3 separate regions of the Homo sapiens genome follow, and regions 2 and 3 are each linked to region 1. Evidence: fine-mapped expression QTL. A gene starts in region 1. Each other region holds a variant in brackets. All regions are shown on one strand. Distances are between the middles of the regions. Region 1 holds the start of GRAMD1C (GRAM domain containing 1C). Region 2 overlaps GRAMD1C (GRAM domain containing 1C). Region 3 overlaps GRAMD1C (GRAM domain containing 1C).

What was found.
Region 2: its variant is fine-mapped to the expression of GRAMD1C in atrial appendage (GTEx, PIP above 0.99).
Region 3: its variant is fine-mapped to the expression of GRAMD1C in lung (TOPMed, PIP above 0.99). The same link has a PIP of 0.9 or more in nasal epithelium.

What each region holds. Positions count from the first base shown.
Region 1 is chr3:113,834,261-113,842,445 of GRCh38, forward strand. GRAMD1C (GRAM domain containing 1C) reads left to right here and starts at 4,528. Exons shown (of 18, transcript NM_017577.5): 1 at 4,528-4,676. The coding sequence starts at 4,650. RefSeq lists a silencer at 4,541-4,740.
Region 2 is chr3:113,923,575-113,931,759 of GRCh38, forward strand. GRAMD1C (GRAM domain containing 1C) reads left to right here. Exons shown (of 18, transcript NM_017577.5): 11 at 7,140-7,258. Among named protein-coding and RNA genes, the nearest start is that of ZDHHC23, 20 kb to the right of the region's middle. The variant G/T (reference allele first, on the strand shown) is at 3,437.
Region 3 is chr3:113,894,220-113,902,404 of GRCh38, forward strand. GRAMD1C (GRAM domain containing 1C) reads left to right here. Exons shown (of 18, transcript NM_017577.5): 7 at 6,812-6,927. Among named protein-coding and RNA genes, the nearest start is that of ZDHHC23, 50 kb to the right of the region's middle. The variant A/G (reference allele first, on the strand shown) is at 4,843.

The DNA.
Region 1 (8,185 bases):
CTTCCGCCTCCTGGGTTCAAGCGATTTTCCTGCCTCAGCCTCCCAAGTAGCTGGGATTACAGGCGCCTGCCACCACGCCTGGCTAATTTTTGCATTTTAGTAGAGACAGGGTTTCACCATGATGGTCAGGCTGGTCTCGAACTCCTGACCTCAAAGGATCCACCTGCCTTGGTCTCCTGAAGTGCTGGGATTACAGGCATGAGCCACCGCACCCAGCCTCTACACTTCCATTATAAGAGTCCTGTATCCCCACGGTCTTGTCAGCAGAATGCGTTTTCAAATTTCTGTACTTTTTGTCAAACTAGTAAGTGAAAAATAGTATTTCAGTGTGGTTTTAATTTCTATGCTATTCTGAGTGAAACTGAGGATCTTTTATATTTTTAAGAGACATTTGCCCAGGCACGGTGGCTTACACCTGTAATCCCAGCACTTTGGAAGCCCAAGGAGGGTGGATCATGAGGTCAGGAGTTCGAGACGAGCCTGATCAGCATGGTGAAACTCTGTCTCTACTAAAAAAAAAAAAAAAAAAATTAGCTGGGCGTGGTGGTGGGCACCTGTTATCCCAGCTACTCCAGAGGCTGGGACAGGAGAATCGCTTGAACACAGGAGGTGGAGTTTGCAGTGAACTGAGGTCGTGCCATTGCACTCTAGCCTGGTGACAAAAGTGAAACTCCGTCTCAAAAAAAAAAAAAAAAAGACACTGATATTTCCTTTTCCATGAACTTTCTGACATATACTTTAACAATTTTAACTTGACTATGGTTTTTCCATATGTTTTTCTGGGAGCTGTTTACATATTAGTGTGATCTCACTTTAAATACATGACCATTAATCTCCTAATTAAGCATTCCCCTGATTGTGGTAAGCAGGGATTTCTGGGAGCTGTTTACATATTAGTGTGATCTCACTTTAAATACATGACCATTAATCTCAATGAGGCATTTGTGTTGCCCAGCAATGCTACTGTTTTACTGTTTTCCTAAAACATTAGTCAGTTCATTCACCTGTGCTCCTAAGTATTTCATAATTTCTCCTTTCTCTTCAAACTTCTAACAACTTTTCTTCCATATTCACTTTCACCTTATGTTCTATTTCACTGCAAAATATATCAATGCTCTTCAGCCAAAGTCCAGGAGAACCATAGCTGTAGTTAGACAACATTGTGTTTATTGACTCATTGCAATGAGGGTGAAAAAATACCATGGAGAACCATGAGGACATCTCAGTGAAAGGGTGTTAGAAAGGTCTTACTACAGGATTTGGGTTTGTGTTCAGTGATTTTGCGAGGAGGATTCAAGAAGTGGAGCTTTGTCCCAGATTACATATTGTCAATAAGATGTGGTTATTCTGATTGGGTATCTTAATACATCTTATCTAGAAGGTAGGTGGAATAAAGTGAAGCTAAAGCTGTTATTGGGAAAAAGGCAGCAGTCAGTCATATTAGTCAGCATAGGGACATAGTCATTTCTGTGTTTCGAACGATGTTCACATTTTTGTCTGTGTTTAGACATGATTACCCAGTGGCCTTCTTTTTGTCTTACTCTATCATGATCATACAGTGGCCTTGCTTAATATTAGTGTTCTGTGACGTTTTTTATGTTTAACAGAACACAGTTTATGCAAAGTTTTGCAGAATGAGGATGGAAACCTGTCTTTTACTGATTATCTTATTAAGTAATTTGTCCTTTAGTATGTCATATATATTTAAGAAATATGCTCATGGCCAGGTGCAGTGGCTCACGCCTGTAATCTCAGCACTTTGGGAGGTTGTGGCGGGTGGATCACTTGAGGCCAGGAATTTGAGACCAGCCTGGCCAACATGGTGAAAGCCCATCTCTACTAAAAATACAAAAATTAGCCGGGCATGGTGGTGGGCGCCTGTAGTCCCAGCTACTCAGGAGGCTGAGGCAGGAGAATTGCTTAAACCTGGGAGGCAGAGGTTACAGTGAGTCAAGATTGTGCCACTGCACTCCAGTCTGGGGGACAGAACGAGACTCTGTCTCAAAAAAACAAAAACAAAACAAAACAAAAAAGAAATACACTCAGTGTCTGACATTTTGTGGAACTGGATTCAACTCCTTTCCATCTCTTCAACTTTACATTATGATTTTTAAATATATGTAAACAGTAAAAGAATAACTGAATAGTAGTATACCCTCCACTTAGGTCCAATAATTAACGTTTCGCTATTTTGTTTTCTCTGTGTATTCATCTTCGTGGAAGCATTTGGAAGCAAGTTGCAGACATGGTGCTACTTCACTCCTAAATACTTTTTTTTTTTTACATCCCCATGGATAACAGGGAACTCCTAAATATTTTAGTGTGAGTTTTCTAATATTAAAGACACCCTGCAACATAGCCACAAGTTATTATTATTATTATTATTTATTATTATTATTTGAGACGGAGTTTCACTCTTCTTGCCCAGGCTGGAGTGCAATGGCCTGATCTCGGCTCCCTGCAGCCTCCACTTTCCAGGTTCAAGCGATTCTCCTGCCTCAGCCTCCCAAGTAGCTGAGATTACAGGTGCTCACCATCACGCCCGACTAATTTTTGTATTTTTAGTAGAGACAGGGTTTCACCATGTTGGCCAGGTTGGTCTCAAACTCCTGACCTCAGGTGATCCTCCCACCTCAGCCTCCCAAAGTGCTGGGATTACAGGCTTGAGCCACCACGCCCAGCTGCCAAAAATTATTAATTATCCATAAATGAATATCCATAAATGTATACATAAATCATTAATTATCCTGTAACATCAACTCTAATAGCCATTTCATATTCACTATTCCTCAATTGTTCTAGAATGTCTTCCCTCCCTCCCTTCCTTCCTTCTTTCCTTCCTTCCTTCCTTCCCTCTCTCTCTCTTTCTTTCTCTCTCTCTGTCTCTCTTTTCTGGAGATGGGGCCCCCCTGTTTTGCCCAGGCTGGTCTTGAACTCCTGGACACAAGCAACCCTCCCACCTTAGTCTCCCAAAGTGCTGGAATTACATGAGTTAGCCACTGTGCCTGGCTTAGAATGTCTTTTTTATAGCTGTTTGGTTGGGAACTCTGAACCCCAAATATCTGAGACAGGCCTCAGTTAATTTAGAAAATTTATTTTGTGAAGGTTAAGGACACACCTGTGACACAGTCTCAGGAAGTCCCAATGACATGTGTCCAAGGTGGTTGGGGTACAGCTTGCTTTTATATATTTTGGGCAGACCTAATACATCAATCAATACATGTAAGATTTACATTGTTTCAATCTGGAAGGGGAGACAGCTCCAAGGCGAGAAGGAGGAACTTTCAGGTCATTGGTACATAAAAAAATTTTCTGATTTGCAATTGGTTGAAAGCGTTATTATTGACTGGGAGCTGTGGCTTGCACGTGTAATCCCAGCACTTTGGGAGGCCGAAGGGGGCAGACTGCTTGAGTCCAGGAGTTCGAGACCAGTCTGGGCAACATGGCGAAACCCTGTCTCAAAAAACAAACAAACAAACAAACAAACAAACAAACAAAGTAGTTAAGCATGGTGGCACACGCCAGTAGTCCCAGCTACTCGAGAGGCTGAGGTGGGAGGATTGGTTGAGTCCGGGAGGTGGAGGTTGCAGTGAGCAGAGATTGCGCCACCGCACTCCAGCTGGTCTAATAGAGCCAGAACCTGTCTCAAAAGAAAAAGAGAAAAAAGAGTTATTATCAGTAGAAAGGAATGTCTGGGTTAGGATAAGGGGTTGTGGATACCAAGGTTTTATCATGCAGATGCAGCCTCCAAGTAGCAGGTGTCCGAGGCAATAGATGATAAATATTTCTTCTCAGACTTAAGGTCTGTGTTGATGTTAATGAGGCATGTCCAATCCCCTCTTTCATCATGGCCTGAACTAGATTTTCAGGTTAAATTTGGAACGCTCTTGGCCAAGAGGAGGGGTCCATTTAGATGGCTGGGGGTGGGCCTCGGCATTTTATTTTTGGTTTACAGAACCAAGAATCTGCAATACGTACAGCAGTTAATCAGTAACTTCAATCCTTTATTGGAAGGAACAAGAGTTTCCTGGCCGGGGGCGGTGGCTGACGCCTGTAATCCCAGCACTTTGGGAGGCCAAGGCCAGCGGATTGCCTGAGGTGGGGAGTTCGAGACCAGCCTGACCCACATGGTGAAACCTTGTCTCTACTAAAAATACAAAAATTATCCGGGCGTGGTGGCAGGCGCCTGTAACCACAGCTACTCGGGAGGCTGAGGCAGGAGAATCGCTTGAACTGGGAGGCGGAGGTTGCAGTTAGCCGAGACGGGGCCTTGGCACTCCATCCAGCCTGAGGAATGAGAGCGAAACTCCGTCTCAAAAAAAAAAAAAAAAAGTTTCCGAGCAATTCACCTTTTCGCACATTGGGGCAGGGTATGCCATTTCCTGGGAGGCACAGTAGTTTGAGGTTGGGAATAGGGAAGTCTCATTGTGACCCCTAGAAAGACAAGCCTTCAGGCTAACCCGGTAACACCCATCGTCAGGAATCCTTCACGGCCGCCAGAGGGCGCAAGGAGCTGCGGCTGGAAGTACTCGGAGGGCCGGCGGAGGAGGCGCGCGGAGCCTGTAACTCGCAGCGCGCGCTGGAGGTGGGCGCGGGGCGGTGCGGTGCGGTGCGCGCGGGGCGGTGCCGCGGCGGCGGAGGGAGCCGCGATGGAGGGCGCTCCGACTGTCCGTCAGGTAAGCCGCGGGCCTCGCTGGGGCAGGTTCCCATCTGTGGCTTTAGCCTACTTTTTCTCACGGTGATTGCTTGAACCTTCTCAGATTACAGTTAATCCCTCCCTTCCCTTTTCTTCGTGCTCTTTGGAGTAATACGGAAAGTTGTTACCGAGGAAACGGTTTCCTGTGCCTCTGCGAGCCCTTTCCCTACGGGCGGTGGTGGGGACATTTGCTTCCCTGTGGGCGTTGAGGGCTTGAATTTGGTCCCGAAATGTCCTGGTGCGGATGTCTCAGCCCCAGGCCCCCTTGGGTCAGGCCCCATGGTCGTGATTCTGACCCACTGTCAACGTTTTTTCCAGCCTTGCCCCCTTCCTTTCATTCTCAGCCCTGTTGTAAAGGTCCGGATAGTTTAAATCACTGTGCTGTCAGCCAAGTTTTTGATTTCAACTAGTCTAGTTTTATTTGTTTACTACCTTATTTGACAAAACGGAAAGCGTGCTTATTAATATTCAGGATGAAACCCCGCTTTTGTTGGACGGGCGCCTGCGTTTCTGAACACCATCCTCCTTCTACATTGGTTTGTGTGTATGTATTTTACTTTTAGAGAACTGCGGTCAGTGCTATATCTTCTGAAGAGCGTTATAGTTTACAGATTAGTGGAGGTACACAAATAATTGTTGAATGAACAGATGAATGAGTGTTATTTCACTTGATTTGAAAAACATTACTATGAAATAGTCAAGCTGGATATTCATGAACCCAATCAGTCACTGATTCAGTTATGTCCCTGGCACTGGGTGTTCGGGATTAGATGGTGATTAACACAGACATGATCCCTGCTCTCAATAAGCTTATTGTCTAGACTAGAGATAAAATTATTTCCTCTATTGTAGAGTTAAGGAACAGATGTACAGAGATTGACTTTGCTAAGGACCACACAGCTAATAAGTCAGAGAGACAGGAATCTACTGTAGCCACCCCAGAAAGCCAGAATGGACCCCCATCCCAAATTTGATTCAGGTGTAGAAACTGATGATGCCACACACACACCATGAGGTTGGAGTAGAAACTGATGATGCCACACACACACCCTGAGGTTGGAGTGCAGTGGCGCAATCTCGGCTCACTGCAAGCTCTGCCTCCCGGGTTCACGCCATTCTTCTGCCTCAGACTCCCCAGTAGCTGGAACTACAGGCGCCCGCCACCACGCCCGGCTAATTTTTTGTGTTTTTAGTAGAGACGGGGTTTCACCGTGTTAGCCAGGATGGTCTTGAACTCCTGACCTCATGATCCGCCCGCCTCGGCCTCCCAAAGTACTGGGATAACAGGCTTGAGCCACCACCGCGCCCGGCCCTGAAAAAGTCTTTTACTTACATAATTAAGGTCTCCAGGGAGAGCAAGGCAGGCCTCTCAAGCAGCACTAAAATGGCTTAAGAGAGCCTCAGGAAAAAACTGGCTCCAGGTCTTTTTTTCACCCTTGATGTTTGATGACTGACCTGCACCATTTGAATTTGAATTTGAATTTAAGTCAGCCATTGTGGCCCAGTGCAGTGGCTCATGCCTGTAATTCTAGCACTTTGGGAGGCCAAGGCAGAAAGAAGTATCGCTTGAGGACAGGAATTTGAGACCAGCCTGGGCAACAAAGCAAGACCCTGTATCTACCAAAATAAAAAAAAAAAAGAAAGAAAAATTAACTGGGCATGGTTGTGTGGCGCCTGTGGTCCTAGCTATTTGGGAGGCTGAGATAGGAAGATCACTTGAGCACAGGAGGTTGAGACTGCAGTGACCCCTGTTTGTGCCATTGCACTCCAGCCTGGGTGACAGAGACCAAATTATTTTCAGAAATTTAACCAAGGTGGTAGGCCTTACACTATGTGTGGCACAATAGCCCATCCTCCTTTTGTGAGCTCCTTTGTGAGTATGTCAAAAGACTGTCCTCAGGGGAGGATGTCATCAATGGAATGTTATACTTGTGCTCCTGGAGAAAATTTGATGCAGTTAAGATCTTTCCTGTAAAGGCTGTGTATGATGGCAAGACTGCGTACTCTATGGTTAGCCTGGTAAAGAGATGTTATGTCTCTCTGGAGGTGAAGACCAACTATGGCTGAGGAGGTGTTGAAAGAGACACTGAACAGAACATATTAGCCAAATCTATCACAGCAAAATATTTACTAGTTGTGGACTGGATAGTCAGTAATTTCAACAATGTTGAGTATAGGGGCCTTCCTGGGTAAAATGACATCATCGAGGATGCAGTAATGAACCATGAGGTACCATTCATTCTTACCAAATTTAACAGGCCAAATTGGGCTGTTAAATGGAGAAGCAGTAGGGATAATTACTTTCACAAAGTACTTCTTTCTTTCTTTCTTTTTTTTTTTTTTTTGCGAGACAGAGTCTTGCTCTGTCGCCCAGGCTGGAGTGCAGTGGCACAATCTCAGCTCACCGCAACCTCCACCTCCCGGGTTCAAGCAATTCTCCTGCCTCAGCCTCCCAAGTAGCTGGGATTACAGGCACGTACCACCACGCCCAGCTAATTTTTGTATTTTGTTTTAGTTGAGATGGGGTTTTACCATGTTGGTCAGGCTGGTCTTGAACTCCTGACCTCGTGATCCACCTGGCTTTCCCTCCCAAAGTGCTGAGATTACAGCATGGCGTGAGCCACCGTGCCTGGCTGAAGTAGGTCTTACATAACAAGTTTTAGTCCTTGAAGGCCCTGTTTTGTTTTATATTGGGTTGTATAATTTTAACTGGGCATTGAGAGTGGTGGTCCATAGGGTCTCACTGTTTTGTTTATTTTGAGACAGAGTCTTGCTCTGTCACCTGGGCTGAAGCACAATGGTGCAATCACAACTTACTGTGATCTCCAACTCTTGGACTCTGGCAGTCCTCCCACCTCAGCCTCCCAAGTAGCTAGGACTACATGTGTGTACCACTATGCCAGGCTAATCTTTAAATTTTTGTAGAGAGGGGGCCTTGCTGTATTGCCCAGCTTGTTCTCCATACTCTTGGCCTGAAGTGATCCTCCTGCCTCAGTCTCCCAAAATGTTGGGATTATACGTGTGAGCCAACATACCCAGCCTGTTGTCCCACTTCTTTGAAAGCCAATTTGTAAGCTCTAAAGACTTGATTTAAATTTAGTTTATTACTAATTGTGTCAGAGTGTCCATGGCCACAATAGGATATTTCAGGGCAATGTATACCACCATCGTGGAGTATTTAGGCAAAGGTATAGTTCTGATGGTTAAAGTGAGGCATACCTATTTGTTGTCTATTTTATGTTGAATAACTCCTAAGATTGTAGGGGATACCTTGTTTAAATTTAGTGGGAACTCTAGGTATAACTGTAATTTGAGACCCAATATTGATTAAAGCCATGAAGATTTGCCAATTGCCGCATTTTAGCTGATGTTGAAGTTAACTTAGAACCTATGTTGTAGAGGCACAAAAGCCAGTCTTTTATCTTTTATCCTGTAAATTATTTTAAATTCTGTATGTTTTGTTAGATCAGTTTATGGACTTCAGTTTCA
Region 2 (8,185 bases), 89 kb after region 1:
GATTTGCATATGTTGAACCAACCTTGCATTCCAGGGATAAAGCCTACTTTATTGTGGTGAATTAGCTTTTTGATGTGCTGCTGGATTCAGTTTGCTAGTATTTTGTTGAGGATTTTTGCATCAATACTCATCAAACATATTGGCCTAAGGTTTCCTTTTTTTGTTGTTTCTCTGCCAGGTTTTGGTATCAGAATGATGCTGAATGATGCTGGCCTCATAGAATGAGTTAGGGAGAAGTTCTTCCTCCTCAATTTTTTTGAATAGTTTCAGTAGGAGTGGTACCAACTCTTCTTTACATGTCTGGTAGAATTTGGCTGTGAATCCATCGGGTCCTGGGCTTTTTTTGATTGATAGGTTTTTAATTACTGGTTCAATTTTGGAACTCATTCTTTGTCTGTGCGGGGTTTTAATTTCTTCCTGGCTCAATCTTGGGAGGTTTTATATTTCCAGAAATTTATCCATTTCTTCTAGGTTTTCTAGTTTTTGTGCATAGAGGTGTTCATAATAGTCTCTGGGGTTTTTTTTTTTTTTTCTGTGGGGTCGGTGGTAATGTTCCTTTTGTCATTTCTGATTGTGTTTATTTGGATCTTCTCTTTTAAATTAGTCTAGCTAGTGGTCTATTAATCTTATTTATTCTTCAAAGAGCCAACTTATGATTTCATTGATCTTTTGTATGGTTTTTCACATATCAATTTCATTCTGTTTAGCTCTAATTTTGGTTATTTCTTGTCTTCTGCTAGCTTTGGGGTTGATTTGCTCTTGTTTTTCTAGTTCCTCTAGGTGTGATGTTAGATTGTTATTTCTAGATCTTTCTAACTGTTTCATGTGGGTGTTTAGCACTATAAACTTGTAACACTGCTTTAGCTGTGTCCCAGAGATTCTGGTATTTTCTGTCTTTGTTCTCATTAGTTTCAAAGGATTTCTTGAGTTCTGCCTTAATTTCATTGTTTACTCAGAAGTCATCAGGAGCAGGTTGTTTAATTTCCATGTAATTGTATGATTTTTAGTGATCTTCTTAGTATTGATTGCTATTGTTATTGCACTGTGGTCCGAGAGTGTGGTTAATATAATTTTGGGTGTTTTGCATTTGCTTAGAATTGTTTAATGGCTGATTGTGTGGTCGATTTTTAGAGTATGTGCCAGGTGCAAATGAGAAGAACGTATATTCTGCTGTTTTGGGGTGGAGAGCTCTGTAGATGTCTGTTAGGTCCATTTGGTTAAATGTCAAGTTCAGGTCACAACTATCTTTGTTAGTTTTTTGACTCAGTGATCTGTCTAATACTGTTAATGGGGTGTTGAAGTCTCCCACTGTTATTGTGTGGTTATCTGAGTCTCTTTGTAGGTCTCTAAGAACTTGTTTCATGAGCCTGGATGCTCCTGTGTTGATTGCATATATACTTGGGATAGGTAAGTCTTCATGTTGAATTGAACCCTTTACCTTTATGTAATGCCCTTATTTGTCTTTTTAAATCATTGTTGGTTTAAGGTCTGTTTTGGTTTTGTCTGAAATTAGAATAGCAATCTCTGCTTTTTTTGTTTTTCATTTGCTTGCCAGATTTTTCTCCACCCCTTTACATTGAGCCTATGGATGCCATTGCATGTGAGATGGGTCTCCTAAAGACAGCATACAGTTGTCTGGGCACGGGGGCTCACGCCTGTAATCCCAGCACTTTGGGAGGCCAAGGCAGGCAGATCACAAGGTCAGGAGATCGAGACCATCCTGGCTAACATGGTGAAAACGCATCTCTACTAAGAATACAAAAAATTAGCCGGGCATGGTGGCACTTGCCTGTAGTCTCAGCTACTCGGGAGGCTGAGACAGCAGAATTGCTTGAACCCAGGAGCTGAGATCATGCCACTGCACTCCAGCCTGGGTGACAGAGCAAGACTGTGTCTCAAAAAACAAACAAACAAACAAACAAACAAACAAAACCCAGCATACAGTTGGGTCTTATTTATCCAACTTTCCACTGCCTTTTAATTGGGGCATTAAGCCCGTTTACATTCAAGGTTAATATTGATATATGTGGATTTTATCTTGTCATTGTGTTGTTAGCTGGTTATTTTGCAGACTTGATTGTGTAGTTGCTTTATAGTGTCAATGGTCTATGTACTTAAGTGTGTTTTTGTGGTGGCTGCTAACAGTCTTTCATTTCCATGTTTAGCACCACCTTGAAGACCTCTTGGAAGGCAGGTAACGAATTCCCTTAGCATTTGCTTGTCTGAAAATGATCTCATTTCTCCTTCACTTATGAAACTTAGTTTGGCTGGATATGAAATTCTTGGTCTTAGTTTCTTTAAGAATGTTGAATATAGGCCCTCAAGCCCTCAAATATAGAGTTTCTGCTGTTAGCCTGATAGGATTCCCTTTGTAGGTGGCCTGCCCCTTCCCTCTAGCTACCTTTAATATTTTTTGTTTCACGTTGACCTTGGAGAATCTGATGACTAAGTGTCTTGGGGATGGTTGTCTTGTATGTATCTCATAGGGGTTCTCTGCATTTCCTGCATTTGAATGTTGGCCTCTCTAGTGAGGTTGGGGAAGTTTTTGTGGATGATATTTTCGAATATGTTGTCCAAGTTGCTTGTTTTCTATCCCTGTCTTTCAGGGATGCCAGTGAGGCATAGATTTGATCTATTTACATAATCCCATGTTTCTCAGAGGTTTTGTTCTTTTTTATTCTTTTTTCTTTATTTTTGTCTCAGTTAATTTGGAGAACCAGCCCTGTGAGATTCTTTTCTCAGCTTGGTCTATTCTGCTGTTAATACTTGCAATTTGTATTATGAAATTTCAGATCAGTATGATTCTTTCTTAAAATGGCCATTTTGTCTTTCAGCTCTTGTGTCATTTTTTTGTATTCCTTAGATTTCTTGGATTGGGTTTTGAGTTTCTCCTGAATTTCAATGATTTTCATTCCTATCTATATTCTGAATTCTATGTCTGTAATTTCAGCCTGGTTAAGAACCATTGCTGGGGAACTAGTATAATTGTTTGGAGGTAGGAAGACACTCCAACTTTTTGAGTTGCTAGAGTTCTTGCACTGGTTCTTTCTCATCTGTATGGACTGATGTTCCTTTTATCTCTGAAGTTGCTGTCTTTTGGATGGGGTTTTTTTGCTTTGATGCCTGTGGGGGTTTGATTGTGGAATAAGGTGGGTTCAGTTGACCATCTTCACTTCTGGAAGATTTCAGGGGGCCCAGGCTCAGCTCAGAACTCCTGGACTGTGTGCTCTAACTGTGGGGGGCTAGAGTTAGAACACATAGTTTTGTGTGTCCCCAGCTTTGTTCTCTGGCCCTTCGAGGTTAGAAATATGTTGCACTGGAGGGGTGGAGGTGTTCCTGGTCCACTGGCCACAATACTCCAATGGGGTTGCTGGCCAAAGCAATTCACTGGGGTGGTGGCAGTAGGATCTGTGCTGCTCATGAATGCCAGCAGCCA[G/T]GATGGCATGGTGGGGTGCTTGTGCACTGGCTGGGGCAGGGGCGCTGGTGGGAACCCTTTGTTTTCACAGGTGTCACCTTTGTTTTCACAGGTGTTGTATACTGGCAGAATATTTTGGTGTTATGTTTTGGGCTGTGATCTAGTAGGTAGTGTTTAAGAGTATTAGCTGGCAGATAGGCTCTTAACGCTGCAGCACAACTCATTTGTGTTTTGGCATGGTTTGTAGTAGTGTTCTGGGGTGAAAAGGGAAAGTGATGACCCCCTACCCTGGTTGGCTCTTGGGCCTTGGAGGAGCCCCCTTTGACTGGCTCTGTGCCCATGTTTCTTTTGTTGGGTGTTTTGGACCACGGGGCTCTTTTAAGCAGGTGCCATGGTTGGCAGACAGGCCATATGCTTGCCAGGTCAACCCTGCAGCAAGAATTACACTCTGCCCCTCCACTGGCTTGCAAACCTGGGCATCTCACTCTCTCAGTGATCTTAGAGGGAGGGCTTCTCCCTCCTTGGGCATCACTCAGGCCTGCACATCCTGCTCAGCTAGGAGCTGTGGGACTGGATGTGGTCACCTATTCTGCTGTCTGGGTACTTCCTAGGGGAACACGGGGTTGTGCCTGCCCACATAGTTGAGGCAGAAGTGAGACCACTGGGCTGGACACTCTAGCAGGCATGGCCTGTCTGGCTACCAGCAGCAGGGATGGGTGGGAGTCACCTACCCTGCTGTCAAGGTGTTTCCTGGGGCAACAGGAAGCTGTGGCTGCCAGCTGAGTTCAGGCAGAAGTGGGACTGTTGGGCTGAAGGCTAGCACCAAGTCTTGTCTGGCAAGGTGGAGTGAAGCAATCTTACTGCTCCCAGGCAGGACCGTGACCGCTATTGGGGATATGGTACTGGTGTCATTCCGTTCCAGGGTCCAAGGCTTATAGAGGTCCCCATGGACTTGAGAGTTGTCGCCGCAGAAACTCTGGGTGTCTCTCTGCCTCAGTTTAGAAGTGTGGGGGTAGGGCCAGGGGAACCAGGGAATTCTCCCATTACTAGTCTTACACAGGTGCCTGTGTACAATCCTCCAGGGAGCTCTCACTCACTCATCCTTTCCCATATTGAGGAGCTTTTCCTGGCTCTGTGCTGATCCCAGAGGGGCCGCTGCCCAGCTTTGCTCCTCTCTGCCCTCTGTGTCCCCTTGCTGCCTGGATGGATTCTGACATGGTTTCTTAGATGATCAGCTAGTAGGGTCAGTGTTCATCAACCCTGTTGTTTCCTGTTTGTGAGAGCGGCACACACGAGCAGCTTCTAATTCACCATCTTGACCCACCCAACCCCCGACACTACCTTTAATTAAAGCTCAGTTTTAAGTCTTTTTACCCAACTCTTACATTTAAAAATATGTAAAGCTTCAGAAAAATTGCATGAATAGTATGATAACATCCATATGCCACTTGCCTAGATTCATCAATTTTTAAATTATGGCAAAATGTACATAAGATAAAATTTACCATTTAACCATTTTTAAGTGGACAGTTCAGTGGCATTAAGTACATTCACGTTATTGTACAACCACTGCCACCATCCATCTTCAGAACTTTTTAATCTTTCCAAACTGAAATGCTATACCTGTTGAATGGTAACGCTCCATTTCTTCCATTGTTGATGATCACCATTCTATTTTCTGTCTATGTGAATTTGACTACTCAAGGTGCCTTGCATAAGTGGAATAATACAATGTTTGTCCTTCTGTGACAGATTTAATACACTTAGCATAATGCCTTCCAGGTTCATCCTCGTTGGGGCATGTATCAGAATGTATTCCTTTTTTAAAGCTGAATAATATTCCATTGCATGTATATACCACATTTTGTTTATCCGTTCATCCATTAATGACATCTGGGTTGTTTACACATGTTAGCTACTGTAAATAATGCCACCACGAACATTGACATACAACTGTCTGTTCAGGTCCCTGCTTCCAGTTCTTTTGGGTATATGCCTAGGAATGGAATTGCTGCATCATATAGTAATTCAATCTTTACTTTTTTGAAGAGTGGCTACTATTTTCCATACTGGCTGTATCATTTTACATTTCCACAAGCAATGTACAAAGTTTCCAATTTATCCACATCCTTGCCAACACTGATTATTATTTATAATAGCTATCCTAATGGGCACGAACGTTCACCAATTTTAAAACTTTATTACATCAAAGGATTTTTAAAATTCTGCAGTTCCTGCCTTTTATATATCAAAATGGTTCATATGTCCTTTTGCGTACTAGCCATTTTTCCTACAATTCATTCCAGGTTTTTTTTACATTATGATAAGCTTTACTTAGGTATTGGAGGATTGACTGTTTCAAGATGATGTTAATTAGGTGATGCTCTGGTAAGCAATACTCAGTAGACCTTATTGGTAACATTGCTGAAACTACAAGGGTAACATTCATGGGAAGACAAATAGTTTTCATTTATCCTTGTTGATAGTTGCTTCATTGAGTAGTGTGCAGTTTTAAGAGCAGAATTAAATTACATCTTTAAATTTTGTTTCTGATTAACAACAGACTGGTTGTATCATTTTCCTGAAACAGGCTGACATATGACCAAAGTAATCTTCTGAAAAGTAATTTAGAATTAGTTGTATATCTTCTTTTATATATACCTAAATAAATCATTTTACAGAAAATCCTGGATGATAGACTCTATGATTTGTGATTTTGCCTTTTTAATTTAGTTATAAGACTTTGCCAGATACTCAGAAGGCAATTTCAGGATCCCTCATTAAATCCTCAGATCTAGCAATATAAAAGAAGTTGAGTAAAATTGGCTGTATTCTAAAGCCTCACTTCCTTCCTTTGATGATGAGTATAATGGGGTTAGATAAAGGCTCCTATGCTTTAGGATATTGGTGAATAGCAGTCAAACATACTAGTACTTGCCTAAGTCGATTTGTGCTGGGGCATTAGGTGATACAATCATGTCTTTGAATAGAGTTTTTAATGCTTTTATTTATACTTTTTAAGTTTTTGGCTTCATGAAATGACCTTCACTGTGTTCTAGAACTATATTTCTGTTCAAGTGGGTATTTAATCACTATATTGTCCCTAAGCAAATAAAAGAGAATTTTTACCAGGATCTTGCTATAAACATAGAGATATGATCTTATAGTCTTCTTAAGACAGATTATATAATCATTTATGTTCCATTGCCTTACTGTGACTAAAGATTTTAGCAGACAAGCCACTGACATTACATGATTTCTCATAACATTGACATAATTTCTATGTAAGTTGATATCAAGGTCATATGGTTTCTTAATGACAAAAATATTTTAAAGTTTTGTCCTCAGTGATGGGAATGTTAAAGTGTTGTTCCGTCTCTGATAAACCTGGCATCATTACTTCTCTTCATAGGTACTGAGGACTTTAAAAGGAAGCTTACAGATGAAACAACTTTTAATTTTATCTTCTAATAAAAGGAAAAAGGATATTAATAAACAATTTAGAAATAAATGGATCAGAGATGGGGAATATGCCACATTTAAGGAGAGTGCTTAACATTTAATCTCTCTTTTCTTTAATGTTAAACTTATAATACCCAGTTATAAGGAAGTTAGCACTAGTCAAAAATAGAAATTTTAATAATTCAGAAGCTCCTTTGATTTCATTTAATGTCATACTGTTTAAGTTTCTAGAACTAACTCATTTTGTGTTTGTTGTTGTTAGATGTAGTATCTACCCCTTGGACTGCAGAACTTGGAGGTGATCAGCTGAGAACGATGACCTACACTATAGTCCTTAATAGTCCACTTACTGGAAAATGCACTGCTGCCACTGAAAAGCAGGTACGTCTGCTTTGTCAGTGTCCAGAAGAGTCATGTGTGGGGGAAGAGAGAAGATGCCTATTATAGTTCACCAATTTACAAGACAGTTTCAATAAACAAGTGGCAAGAAAAAAGGGAGGAGAAACTGTTACAGGTTAAAAGAGACTTAAAAGGCATATGAATCGTATCAACCCACTCCTAATTCAAACAAACCACTTGTTAAAAGGTATTTATGAGATTTCAGGAATTGTTTATTTTTTATGTATAGTAATGGTATTACAGCTGTGTATTAAAGAAAATAATATTTATTTTAAAAGAGATATATGGAAGAATCTATAAAGAGATATAGTGAAGTATTATGGATGACATTATATTGATGTCTAGGATTTCCTTTAGAAGTCATCTAGCTGGGCAGAGGATGGTGATAGAGGCAGGTAATATGGGACAGAGGACAAAGGAAGCAAGACTGGGGAGGAGTTAGTGTTGCTGAAGCTAGTTGATGAGCTCCTGAGGGTCATTATACTTCATTTCTTCTCTTTCATATATTCAAATTTTTTTTTTTTTTTTGAGACGGAGTCTCACTGTTGCCCAGGCTGGAGTGCAGTGGCATAACCTTGGCTCACTGCAAGCTCTGCCTCCCAGGTTCAAGCGATTCTCCTGTCTCAGCCTCCTGAGTAGGTGGGATTACAGGCGCACGCCACCATGCCTGGCTAATTTTTGTATTTTTAGTAGAGACGGGGTTTCAGCATGTTGGTTGGGCTGGTCTCGAACTCCTGAACTCATGATCCGCCTGCCTCAACCTCCCAAAGAAAATATTTTTTTAAAAAGAATACCAGGCCAGTTATGGTGGCTCATCCCTGGAATATTAGCACTTTGAGAGGCCCAGGTGGGAGGATCACTTGAGACCACGAGTTTGAGATCAGACTGCGCAACACAGTGACACTTTGT
Region 3 (8,185 bases), 60 kb after region 1:
GCATTTAGGATTACAGATATTATAATATAGGCAGGATGTATGCAGAAAATTTACTTTTGTACTGTTGTTTTTTTTTTGAAATGGAGTCTTGCTCTGTTGCCCAGGCTGGAGTGCAATGGCATGATCTCGGCTCACTGCAACCTCCGCCTCCTAGGTTCAAGCGATTCTCCTGCCTCAGCCTCCTGAGTAGCTGGGATTACAGGTGCTTGCCACCACACCCAGCTAATTTTTGTATTTTTCATAGAGGCGGGGTTTCACCATGTTGGCCAGGCTGGTCTCGAACGCCTGACCTCAGGTGATCTGCCTGCCTTGGCCCCCCAAAGTGCTGGGATTACAGACGTGAGCCACCACGCCCGGCCTGTACTGTTTTTATCTTAGCAAGGTAATAGTGGTCTCTCTTGCCAGCACATGGGGGCTATGGGGAAGCTAGCTCTCCTTGGAAATTTAAGAGTATATTCTGAAAGTGAATATTTCAATCCAGGGTCTAATAGAGCAGAAATCTGTACTTATTTTGAATTTTAAGGCTTAAAGAGACAGAATGTCTTTTCATCTTATTCCCAAATGGCAGAAGAAGATAGCATATGTTAGATTCAGGGGTAAAGTAATGAGGGGAGCTTTTTAAATGTATACAGATATACGCTGTCTAAATTCTGATACATGTTACTCTAGCTTCTATTTTGGGAATCACTAAGTAGAAGGTTGACAGAAGGGTGTCCTATTCCTCAGGTGTGTTGGGGAAAAAGGGTTTAAAACAGTTGATTGAAAGTATTAGTGTATAAAAAGAAAGAATATATCGGTCTGAAGAGGACTTGGTCAGACGTAGGCCAAGAACTTAGGACTTAGGACAGAAAAGTAGAGTTGCAGAGGCAGACTTTGATCAATAGAGAACCATATGGAGATGGGACAGAGATGAATCATCATGCCCCACCAAGGTCACAGTAAATTGTCCCTTAAAGCTGTCTACTTTTGCTCTGATTCCATGCTTGTTGTGCCACTTTCTGATTGCTAATCTGACTTCCAAGGTATTCAGGTGTTCTGGGCGATAGAAGAAAAGATTTCTGATCACCAGAAAGGAATCTTCCCCACCGTGCATTAGTGTATTTCCAACTGAGCTAGTATCAGCTCGTGAGTGTGGCTTATATAAGTTGGCCTCCCTGAGCCAACTCTAGGATAGTGACAGCTCTGAGGCTTTTCTCTAAATAGTGGTCAGTTTACAAAGCCTATGTCAGCCACTGAGACCTTTTGGAGGAGTGTCATCCAGCTTTCTCCTTTAGCCTGCGCAACATTATCAAATCCCCTTGTTCTTTTATTTTGGAGTTACTGGAATTCCAAAAGTTTTCCAGTAGTGCTATCAATCTAATAAATGCAACATTCAGACCTACCTGGAAAAAAAATGAATATGAAATTGGTAACTATTTGTCACGTTTGCTATGTAATAGCATGGCAGTATAGAAGTGTTTGTATTATATAATTCCCTCTTTTTTACCTTCTTGATTGTCAGAACTCCTCTATCTATTTTCCCTTGGTCAGTGAGCTACACCGCCTTCTACCCAGTCACCCAAGCCAGAAACCTAGATGTATCCTTTTTCTTGCCTCTTTGCCAGCCAGCCGTGTCTAGTTGGTCACCAAGGTCATCATCATTTCTAGCTTGAACCATTACCAATGTCTTCTTATCTCTTTTTAACACCTGATCTGTCTTTGAGGTTGATGTCAAATAGTAGTGTTTTAAAATCATGTCTTTTAAAATCATAATTCTGAACTTGTTACTTTTCTATATGAAACCACTGGGTGGCTTTTGATATTTCGACAATGTAAAGTCCATATTCTTTGGCATGGCATACAAGGCTCTTCATGACCTGGCTGCTTCCTCCTTCCCCACTGTATCTCCTCTCCCTGCCTCACTCTCATGACACACACATGCTCAAGTGATGGGGAACTGGTTTGGCAAGCTGCATCATTCCTCTGGATGCTTGCATTTGACATACATGTGCTCATCCTGTGCTCATCTTACTTGACCTTTCGGCAGCGTTAGATACCACTGTATACTCCCTCTATTTTGAAATACTTTCTTCCCTTGCCTTTCATGACATTCTTTCTGGAATCTTCTCTTACCTTTCTGGTATTTCCCTGAATCTTTTTTTGCTGGCCACTCCTCTATTTTCTCTTTGTGTGTTGGGCTTTCTTGGGGTTCAGTTTTAGGTTCTGTTTTTCCCTCTGAAGCCTACTAAATTTAGCTCTGCCCTACATAGCAGTGGTTTGGTATAAGGATTTTTATATTTAGCAAAAATGTGTATAAATATCAGTTGTGGTACAGTTAATGTATATTTTCTCATAGCTATTTGTTCACCATCGTAAATATATTTAGTTACAATTTCAGTCAATGAGAACTACCATAATATGCTAAAAGCACTGCCTTTTAGACAGCGGAAGCTGCCCCCACAGTGGGCTTTCTTCATTTGAATGAGTAGTATTTTCAGCATCACTCTACTCTATCTCATTCTGCCATTGTATAAAATGATGAGATTTTAGCATCCCTCAAAAGGTTGATCCGTGGAGTTCATCAAGTAGCCTTTGATTTGTTTACACACATCACTAAATTAAATGGAATGACTAGGTAGAAATTAGGGCAAATTTTGCTTCTTTATTTAGAAGAAAAATTTTCTTCTGAGAAATAAATAGGAATTAGTAGATGAAACTGTACTGTCTATTATAGTCCAGATCACTGCCAGGGAATTATTCTAAATACACCAAAGTCAGAAATATTTTCAAAGAAAAGAATTATTGAGTAATCAAAATGTTGCCTTAAACCTTTCAGTGATGAGAGATGTGCCGGGTGCTTAGTAGAATTATTCCACCTGAACAGCTGGCTCTTCCTGCTATTTCCTTACGTTACATTTACAGCACTCAGAGATAGAATCTTTGGTTGTTGTAAAGGATTAATGCAAGAGTCTGATAGGAATACTACGTCAGTACTAGAGAAGTAGTATATGAAGAGGTAATCATGACATTCCCAGAATTGCATAGAAATTACTAGCATGGAGAAGAAAAATTAACCTGTAATATAGTTAATTTTAAAGATGAGATTAAAATAATATTGCAGTAGCTGTTTTATATCAATTTAGCATAAGCAAGATGTTTTTACTTTCATTTTGTTTTTTCTAATCTGTGCGTAGAACAGAGAAAATTAGGAACTGTCCCTTTAATAAAACCTGTTTACCTATCTTCTTCTTGTAGGAGTGGCTTAGGAACCTGTAGAGTGAGGTATAACTTCCAATTCTGCATTCTGACCTGCAACCTTGGAAAGAGTGCTGGTACTACAACCAGGAAGTGACAGATAATGTGCTTTAAACTACATTAGAAAAGCTTCTCATAGCAAAACTGAGAGATTGAAGCAGTGATTATTTTTACATAGTTGTCATTAAATATTTGGAGCTCTGCTGTGCATAGAGATGGCAACATACTTAGAATACACAGCTTTCTGGGCCAGAAATTGATCTTCTGACTTTTGAGCCTTATCTGATTACTGCTTGGTTCATCTTTATTTTGTTAAACTACTCTGTAGGCTGAAAGGGAGAGACTCTCCTTGGTTTGCAGGTGGGTGGTCAGCTTGTGTTTAAAATTTAGGTTGTTTTGAAGACTACTAAGGTAGATTATTTTTGCTGCTGATTATTGAAAGAATTATGAATATCAGGCTGGGCATATGTTTGAATGTTTGAATGTTCAACATGGCTGTAAATAACCACATTTTTATGAAAACTGGACAACTTTATAGAAAACGTCATTTTTAACAAATTGGCAAATCTACAAGATGGTGAATTACATGAGTTATATTTTATTTTCCATTAACCTGTTATATATATTAAATTACTAGCTTGAAAAGTATATTGTGATTACCCTGCTATTAACTTCCTGCTAGTATTTAATACAATATTCAAAACATTTATGTAGTCAAATAAAATTACATTTTTGTTGTTAGTATTTTACTAATAAGTTTCATTTCTTTTGCTGTTAGGAAGCTGCCTGAGTATTCATCATTGGTTTATCTTTTTGCTTTAGTCTGCCTTTGTAATCGTTTGATATCTATTATTTAAGAAAAGTTTTTATAAAAGATTAGTCTTACACAAGTATATTGAAATATTGCTTGCTTCTCATTATAAAGTTAACCATCCTAGTAAGACACTAAAATATTTCAAAGATAATTTCTTTGGAAGAATGAGTTAATTAGTAGTGTGAGTTATTATTGTGAAAAAAAGTTCACAACAAATGACTCATTTGGAGTGGAAGTCAGAAAATAAACGTGTATGTTCCTTTAATATCAAGGACAGTGGTTTCTTAATTTTCTCTACCACTAATGGTCCTTTTTATGTTTTTTTCTATGGACACTGTGCTTCCAAAGACTTTGTCTACCAAATAAGGGGTATACATTAAATAATAAATATTAAAACATCACTACTTGTTAGATATATATTATTTCCAGTGAGAATTTATTAGCCTGTGTTATCCATTGTAGGTTAATATAGTTCAGCTCGAAACAGAGGCTTGCCATTTCACTTAACTTGAATAGCTTTATTTTAGATAATTGGATATTTTTGACTTTTTGAAATATTATCTGATAATATCTGATGATAATATCTGAATTTTCATCATCTGCTCTTGTGGAATCCTGGTAATCTGGGCACAGTAGATTGGGAACTAGTGGTCTAAAGTGCAGACATTTTGTTCTTAATATCTTTGAAGGTCCATGAAATGTAATGAAGGTCATCTAGTATAACATAACAAACAAAGATGCCATAGTTACTAGACAGAGAAGAAAAAAGGAGGAAGAAAAAGGAAGTGGTATTT[A/G]TTGTAGGGAACCCTGGGGAGGAATTCAAGGCATCTGTGTTGTGGCCCCATCAAGTCTATATTTATCTCTACTATTTCGCAACTTAAAATTTTTATTTCAGTTAGGCTGATAGACTACTGACTTCAAAACAAATGTTACTTATGTTCATGTATTTATTCTGTATTTTTAGTTGGTTTCCGTCTCTTCAACTTTTCCCATTTCTCCATTTCCCCATATTCTTCCTTTATCTCAGCTGAAAACACTTCTCCAATGTGAAGCTTTATCTGATCACACTAATCCACAGTCCTATTTCCTTCCTTTAGACTTTCATATCATGTTGACTGTACCAGTACTTTAGTGCATGATCATATTATATCTTGTCATATAACTTAAGAACATCCCATGTCTCTTCAACTATATTAAAAGTTGTTTGAGGGCCAGGAGCTTAACTTCTACATTATGTTTTTATGTTTATTCTCCTTAGCATCTAGTGCAGTAACGCACATTTGTTAGGTACTAAATAAATATCTGTTGAATGAATGAGAGAGATTATCTTACTAACAATTGCTTCAAGTGTTATGCTACTTCCTTACACCTTGCTTAAGCAGGTAATTAACTATCTGTAATGTTTTTAGACATCAGACCATTGGTTATCATAATATTGTTATTTAATTTTATTTTTCAACTGGAGGCCATTATCCTAAATCATAATAATACTGTTTTTGTTTTGCTAGGTAATGTGTGAGTTTGTTGTATTTGATGATTTAAAAATTTGTTAATTTCTGCCTACAAAGAAAGAACAAGCTGGACTTTATTAAAGATAAATCAAAGGAAAAATTCTGAAGTCCAGACTCTTGCATTTTATATATTAGGAAAATATAGTTTAAAATTTATTGATATATAAGATTTTTAAAGTGGTTAAAATATTCAGATACATTATGGATTAAGAGGACAGGTTCTAAGCTGACAGGGCTGAACGGTGATTCAGTGGTCATGGTAGACTGGTTAGATTGCAGAACTAAACTGAAGATCAGAGGCTAGGCACCATGTCTCACGCCTATAATATCAGCATTTTGGGAGGCTGAGGAGGGTGGATCACTTGAGGTCAGGAGTTCCAGACCAGCCTGGCCAACATGGTGAAACCCCATCTCTACTAAAAATACAAAAATTAGCTGGGTGTGGTGGTGCACACCTGCAATCCCAGCCACTCGGGAGGCTGAGGTAGGAGAATCGCTTGAACCTGGGAGGTGAAGGTTGCAGTGAGCTGAGATTGCACCACTGCACTCCAGCCTGGGTGGCACAGTGAGACTCCATCTCAAAAACAAGCAAACAAACTGCAGATCAGTAATTACCAGAAAGTATGAACAAATTATTATTATTATTATTATTATTATTTTGAGATGGAGTCTCGCTCTGTCACCCAGGCTGGAGTGCAGTGGCACAATCTTGGCTCACTGCAACCTCCGCCCCCTGGGTTCAATCGATTCTCCTGCCTCAGCCTCCTGAATAGCTGGGACTATAGGTGTGCGCCACCATGCCCAGCCAATTTTTGTATTTTTTTTTTTTAGTGGAGACCAGGTTTCACCATGTTGGCCAGGATGGTCTCGATCTCTTGACCTCGTGATCTGCCTGCCTCAGCCTCCCAAAGTGCTGGGATTACAGGCGTGAGTCACTGTGCCTGGCCTGAACAAATTATTTTACAGAAAGAAAATTTAAAACATTTTTAACCTCCCATTTTCAGTAGTTATTATAATATGTACTTTAAAATCATTTTATCTATTCCTTTTATGAACTCTGCCAGATAGCTTTTATTAACTCATTTTTATAGATATGCAAAATGGAGGTACAGAAAGGTCAAATAACTACCAAAGCCCCATATCTAGTCTTTGCACAACAGGTCATTTTTGACTTCAAAACTCATGTTTTGAATCACTGTGATATTATATTTTATATTTTCCAATGCTCAGTGTAATTTTTCTGTCACTTTAGAGCCTGACTAGACAGGAATTCTGGCAACTGCTCCAGCAGAACTATGGCACTGAGCTAGGTTTAAATGCTGAGGAGATGGAAAACTTGTCACTGTCGATTGAGGATGTGCAGCCAAGGTACAGCAAAATGTTTTGAAATGTCAAAATTTATCAATTATTAATCAAAGCAGAATTATTTTACATTCGACTAATTCTGAATTTCTAGTAATTTATCTTTGGCTGCCATTTGCCCCTTTGTTCTTTGTGGTGGAATGGGGTGAAAGGTGGGGACAGAGAATAGTTTGCTAAATAGGTAAGCACATATGAGATATATAAGGAAATGTTGGCTATGTCACTTAGGGTAGACTTAAAGTCTGGTTTTAGTAAGCCTGTTTATTAAGGATCTGGAGAAGTACCTAGTGAAATCTCTGAGTTTATAGATGACAGTAAAGTAAATTATATGGTAGGTGTTTTGAAGGATACAATAACATGATTTTTCCTCAGGAATTCCCTAACATAGTGCTTAGCATGTGGTTGGCACTCCATAAATATTGAATACATTAATGGAAGGAGCATATAGCCTACCGTGGAATGCAAATAATTGTAATACAAGGTCGATAATGGTAAGAGTCATAACAGAGTAACAGATAATGTGATAAAGAAATTAAGAGTACAGAGAGACTATTTTTGACTGATGAGGATTCATTTAGAAGAGTGGACATTTTTATTAACCTCTACAAGTAAAAGTGCATTATGTCCAGTGGAAATTGAGGCTGTTAGCAATAAAAACAATTAAGGAGAATACATTAAAATTCTATAGCAAACATTATGCTGAGTGAAAAAAGCCAGTCACAAAAGGCCATATATTGTATGATTCCATGTATGTGAAATGGAGTCTAGAACTGGTAAGTTTATAGAGACAGAAAGTAAATGGTAGTTGCCAGGAGCTGATAGGAAGGGAGAATGGGGAGTGACTGCAAGTGACTGCAAAGCATTTCTTTGTTGGGGTGATGACAATGTTCTACAATTAGTTAGTGGTGATGGTTGCCCAACTCTGTAACCCACTAAATTGTACACTTTACATGAAGTGAATTTTGTGGTGTGTGGATTATATCTTAAAAGCTGTTATTTAGAAATTCTATAGCAAATCTTAAAATGGAAATATTTTGAAAGTCTCAAAGTATGTGCAGAAATTTTACTCATCTAGGTAATCTACTTATGCTGATCCAATTTATATCTTTTCAGCTTAGCATCAGTATTTTATAGGCTTTTTTACATGGTTGCACATGTATATTTTATTAGCTTTCTGTAAAGTTAAAAATTTCCATTGTATTGTTCTCCTTGAGAAGTTTAGTAGCCTCTTGCCGGCTCTGGATTTGGATAGAAAAGCAGTTAC